Regions from separate parts of the Homo sapiens genome. Here region 2 is linked to region 1. A link means that fine-mapping ties the variant in region 1 to the expression of a gene that starts in the linked region. Tissue or cell type: tibial artery. Region 1 holds a variant in brackets; the other region holds the start of a gene. All regions are shown on one strand. Distances are from middle to middle.

Region 1 (2,752 bases):
AGTAGAGACAGGGTTTCACCATGTCGGCCAGGCTGGTCTTGAACTCCTGACCTCAGGTGATCCGCTTGCCTCGGCCTCCCAAAGTGCTGGGATTACAGGCACGTGCCACCACTCCTGGCTAATTTTTGTATTTTTAGTAGAGACAAGGTTTCGCCATGTTCGCCAGGCTGGTCTTGAACTCCTGGCCTGAAGTGATCTGCCGCCTCAGCCTCCCAAAGTGCTGGGATTACAGGTGTGAGTCACTGTGCCCGGCCAAAAACATTTCTTTCACAGATTAACAGAGGTGGTGCCGTTCATGGCAGTCTGTGCCTCATAGGTGCTCTGGGTCTCCTGTCTTGGGCCCCCGCCAACTCCATGGGGCTTCCACGTTTGCAGAGCCCATAGCTCTGTCCCTTTTCTTCTCCCTGACGCTGCCGTGCTGCATCCCTGATTCTCATGGTTCTGTTCACAGCCCCCTCTGCCCACTGGACCCCGGGCTGCACCCTCGGGCCCTGGTTGTACCGCATGAGCAGGCAGGGTGGCCGTTGACCTGGCTGGTGCCTGCAGACCTGTGGTCACCTGTTACCAGCCAGCAGCCGCCGCTCACACCCACACCCACACCCACACCCCACATTGAGAATGCCCAGGCCACCGTGCCTGGCTGGTGCCTGGGAGGGGATTTTCGTTGCCTTTTGGGTGAGAAGCAGCCTTTTTGATTGTTTCACTGCGTTTTCTGCAGGGCGTTTTCCACTGCGCCGTGGAGACAGCGAAGCTCGGGCCTCTGGCCTTTTACAAGGTGCAGTGGTGGCGGCAGTGGCGGCTTGGGCAATGGGGAGCGGGCCCCTTCGGGCTCTGTGTCTCTCATTTTCCCTGTCTCCCTCCAGGGCCTCGTCCCAGCTGGCATCCGCCTCATCCCCCACACCGTGCTCACTTTTGTGTTTCTGGAACAGCTACGCAAAAACTTTGGCATCAAAGTGCCATCCTGACCAGCCGTGGGAATGGCTGGGCTGCCAGGCCAGACACGCTAGGTTCTTCCAAAGAGTCCCAAGCCCAGCACCTGCTCCTGGGGCCACGACCTCCCTGGCCGTGGCCACCCGTCCTCCGCAGCAGGCCCCTGCTGTCCCCCCACCTGCTGGCTGAGCTCCTCCTGGCCTCGTCCCCTCTCAGCTGTAGCTGCACCACCCCCGCTCTGGCTACCAGGCTCTCCCGGCTGGGCACTGCGTGGCCTTGCCCCTCTCCCGCTGGCAGCTCCTCAGGGGAACAGGGGCTACCAGAGGCTGATTTCTCCCCTCTCCTGGGCCAGGGGAGGGGTATTATCCCTGCCTCCTGCCCCCGATGCCCAAAGCAGCATCTTCCAGCACTTTCCATCGAGGACTTGGGTGGCAGAGTGTGGGTGCAGCCTGGCTGTTGCTCACCCAAGTGCTAGCTCTGCACTTCGTGTCTGCTGAGAGCAACCAGACCTTCCATGTCCTCGGGCAGCTGCAACTCCCCGCGAGACCCCGCAGCTGGGTGGGATGAACAAGCAACGCAGACCACAAGCGAGTGCCTGGGAGGGAGTGGCCCAG[G/A]GTGGTTCTGGAGCCATTGTGGGTGAGGGTCGAGGGCCACCGAGGTCCCGCGCACCGCTGCCTGCCCTGCAGTGGCTTTAACAGTTAGTTTTGCCAAAGCCTCTCCACTCACCAGCAGGCGGTCTCTGTCTTCAGGGATTGTGCCTGCGTCCCTCGGGCACCTGGGCCCCCCCGCTTGGCTCCCTGGGGGAATGGCCCAGGCGGGCCGCGGTTCCTCCTTAGGGCCTTCTCCCCGACAAGGAGTCCGACGGGGCGGATGCTGCATCCTCTGCCTCCCTGGTCGCTGGGCTTCACCCCACCTGGGAAGGGCAGTGTGCTCTGTGGGGGCTGCAATCAATAAATGCCGGGAGCTGCCACATCTGTTCCTGCCTGCGCTGCCTGCCCGCTGGCTGCCTTGCTGTCCAGACCAGCAGGACCCCCTGCACCCCCTAAGGAGGACCGGGCCAAGGCCTTTTGGGGAGGAGCCAGGGTCCTCGCTGTGCATTTGGATGAAGGAATTGGGGAAGTAGGAGGAACCAAAACCGGTGTGGGGGGAAGGGAACAAGACGGTGAGGCTGGGGTTGAGGGTCTCAGACACAGGATCTGGCTCTGTCATTCAGACTGGAGTGCAGTGGCACGATCTTGGCTTACTAACCTGGGCCTCCTGGGCTCAAACCAGTCTTCTACCTCAGCCTTCCAAGTAGCTGGTGCTATGGGCGTGCACCATCATACCTGGCTAATTTTTGTATGTTTTTGTAGAGTTGGGGTCTCACAATGTTACCCAGGCTGGTCCCAAACTTCTGAGCTCAGGGGATCTGCCCATTTTGGCCTCCCAAAGATGCCCTTTTTTTTTTTTTTAAGACAGGGTCTTACTGTGTCACTCAGGCTGGAGTGCAGTGGCGCAAACAGCCTGTAGTCCCAGCTACTTGGAAGGCTGCGGTGGGATCCTTTAAGCCTGCAAGTTCGAGGCTGCAGGGAGCTATGATCGCACCACTGCACTCCAGCCTGGGTGACAGAGCGAGACCCCATTTCAAAAAAAGAATGTAATGGTGGGCCGGGTGTGATCTCTCATACTTGTAATCCCAGCACTGTGGGAGGCTGAGGCAAGATCTCTTGAGCCCAGGAATTCGAGACTAGCCTGGACGATATGGTGAGATCTCCATCTGTACAGAAAATTTAAAAATTACCTGAGCGTCATGGCATGCACCTGTAGTCCCAGCTACTTGGGA
Region 2 (2,500 bases), 36 kb before region 1:
AGTCTGTTCTCTGCGGAGCAGCAGCCCTGCCCTCAGCAAGCCCTCTGTGAGCTCCTACCGGGGGCCTGGGAGCGCAAGCACCAGAAACCAGACAGGGTGCCCAGCAGGAAGCAACACTAGCTAAGACCTATTTCCATGAGTAGTATAGTCACTAAATAACCCAAACCCCTTTCTACACACAGCAAGGTTGGGGACTGGACGTCACAGAAATGTAGACACACTTCCCTAAAGGAAGCCCATATAGGATTACAACCCACCAGGAGAGAACGGCAGTTTCCATAGTAACTGGACCAGATGGGGCCCATGCACCCCCCAAGCTCCCGGATGGTGATCTTTCTCTGTGCCACGATGTCAGTAAGATTGGTGCCCACCTATAGGAAAAACCACGATGCAAAAAGAACAATACAACCGCTGTCCCGTTGTGAACTCCTGAAGAGCACCGTGCCCACACCTTACACGGTGGCCTGAACCCCGCAGACCCATTCTCCCTAACGCAGGAACGGCGAGCAGGGACCGACGCCCATCAGTAGCTGGACTCGCTGTGGGGGCGACCAGCCACAGGAAGCCGTTGCGAGGGGAGAGGAAGTGCCCGTGGAGGGCGGCAGGCCCCCTCATCCCGCGCCAATTATCCTCAGCTCGGGCCGTCCCCCGCTCCCGAAGGCTGGCCTTAAGTCACGACCTGACCCGCTGCGCCTCGGCGTGCACTTAGAGGAGCCCGGAGCTCTTCGCCAAGCGCAGAACTGACCCCCCGCAACTCCACCCGCGGGGGCGGACACCTACCGTGGGCCGTGTCGGGGGCGGCTCCCCCAGGTCGCCTTTCCCATCCCGGGAGCTCACCTGTGCGAAGCGGTCAAGGACCCGAGCAGCTAAAGGGTGAGTCCCCGCCCCACTCCGGGTGCCCCCCGCGCCCCGGTCCCGTCCCCGCGCGGAAGGATATCCTGCAGCCGTTTCACCAGCAGCGTCTTCCCGACGCCCGTGGCCCCCAGCAGGAGACACATTCCGTGCTTCGCTCCACCCGGCACCCGTAGCTCGGCGCCGCGGCTCAAGGCCCGCCCACCGGCCACTCTCATTGGATAGTTCTCACCTTCGGACTTCTCATTGGTTCTTAGGGCTCATTGTTCCAAGGGCGCGTCCAATTAGCGCGCAGCGTTAGCGGGAGAGCGGAAGACCCCGCCTCCTCGCGGCTCTAGGGCCGGCGCGGTGACGTGCGCGTGCGCGCACTGGAGGGAAAAGGCGGAAGCGGAAGTCGGGGGGCGCGCCAGCTCGTAGCAGGGGAGCGCCCGCGGCGTCGGGTTTGGGCTGGAGGTCGCCATGGGGCGAGGCAGCGGCACCTTCGAGCGTCTCCTAGGTAACGCGTCCCCACCCGACGGCTCGGCCTTGGTCAGCCCGCAGCCTCCGCCCGGCGCTGAGTCAGCGCGGCCCCGAGGGCCCGAGGGGCGCGGACCGGCCGCCCTGCCCGCCTCTCCCCGGCCCGCTGTCCTCCCGGGTTCGGAGCCGCCGATCCTGGACCCTCGGCGCGGCCGTGGGGTCGGCGTCCGTCGGGCGTTGGCAAATGGGGCTCTGCGAGGGTCCGCGCAGGGCGCCAGGGGCGCTCGGCGACCTCGCTCCTCCGCGGGCCCGGGCATTCGGCCGATTTCCTCTTGACCGACGAGCACCCGGCCGAGTGGGCCACAAGGCCTGAGTCATGAAAGTGGGTGACTCAGTCGGATGTTAGGCTCGCACTTGGGCTTCTGACCCAAAACACTGGGCCTCGAAGGGTGGAGCCGGCAGTGTTCTCTCTGGGACCTTCGAGCTCTCTTGGGGGCTGCGGGTCCCAGACCCACCTTTTGTTCCCACACTGGCTTCGGGAAGTGCCTAATGGTTTAGGAAGGCGTTTTCTCACGTTTTTGGAGGTGAAAGCTGATCCTATCTGAGCCTCCTGGAATTGACGCGTTTTGGGAGGGAAACGAATGTTGATGTGCACGTGCCCAGCAGCACGTGGAAAATGCGTCTAATGTTTGGGGGTAGGAGCTTGGGTGGTCGAATGGGCTGCCCAAGCTTGCCTTTTTGTCAAGTAGGGTTTTCAAGGAGACTTCAAGTGAGACACCTTCCTTGCCAAGGGAACCAGCAAGCAGACTGAGTATCTCAGCCACACAGGTAGTTCAGTGCTTCAGGGATGAATCCAGAGGTTAACTACTGAATCAGTATAGAAAGTGGACGTGGCTTGGCTTGTTAGATCGTTTCTGTATCCGGGAAAGGCGATGTGGGCAGAGCTGGAGCTGCCCCCCCAGAGGGGCCAGTTGTTGGAGACAGCAGTGATGTGGTATGATGACAGGTATGCTGGCGAGTCCTCCTTGGAGCCCCGTTCTGCCCTTATTTCCAAAGCACTTGGCTTGGAGCAAGGGGCCTGGAGTCTACACTGCAGGCCTCTCTAGCCCTTGCCCAAGCTAAGGTCCCATTGAAACCGGGAGCATCTGGGCGAACGGGGACTCCAAGGGACGGGTGATAGGGTTCTTTGTTG

Which allele goes with the higher level. Positions count from the first base shown, and alleles are read on the strand shown. Sizes are in standard deviations (SD) of each study's normalised expression.
With allele G in place of A in region 1, the expression in tibial artery of the gene that starts at base 1,256 in region 2 is higher (small effect, 0.11 SD a copy in GTEx).

What was found. PIP is the estimated chance that this variant, and not a neighbour inherited with it, causes the effect.
Region 2: it holds the start of HGS, and the variant in region 1 is the best candidate, but not a certain one, in a credible set for the expression of HGS in tibial artery (GTEx, PIP 0.76).

What each region holds. Positions count from the first base shown.
Region 1 is chr17:81,719,113-81,721,864 of GRCh38, forward strand. SLC25A10 (solute carrier family 25 member 10) reads left to right here. Exons shown (of 11, transcript NM_012140.5): 10 at 719-775; 11 at 864-1,900. The coding sequence ends at 965. Among named protein-coding and RNA genes, the nearest start is that of SLC25A10, 8.2 kb to the left of the region's middle. The variant G/A (reference allele first, on the strand shown) is at 1,545.
Region 2 is chr17:81,682,756-81,685,255 of GRCh38, forward strand. HGS (hepatocyte growth factor-regulated tyrosine kinase substrate) reads left to right here and starts at 1,256. Exons shown (of 22, transcript NM_004712.5): 1 at 1,256-1,348. The coding sequence starts at 1,312. ARL16 (ARF like GTPase 16) reads right to left here and starts at 1,042. Exons shown (of 5, transcript NM_001040025.3): 1 at 938-1,042; 2 at 781-839; 3 at 258-371. The coding sequence starts at 998. RefSeq lists enhancers at 507-726, 944-1,238 and silencers at 827-906, 1,117-1,176, 1,387-1,486.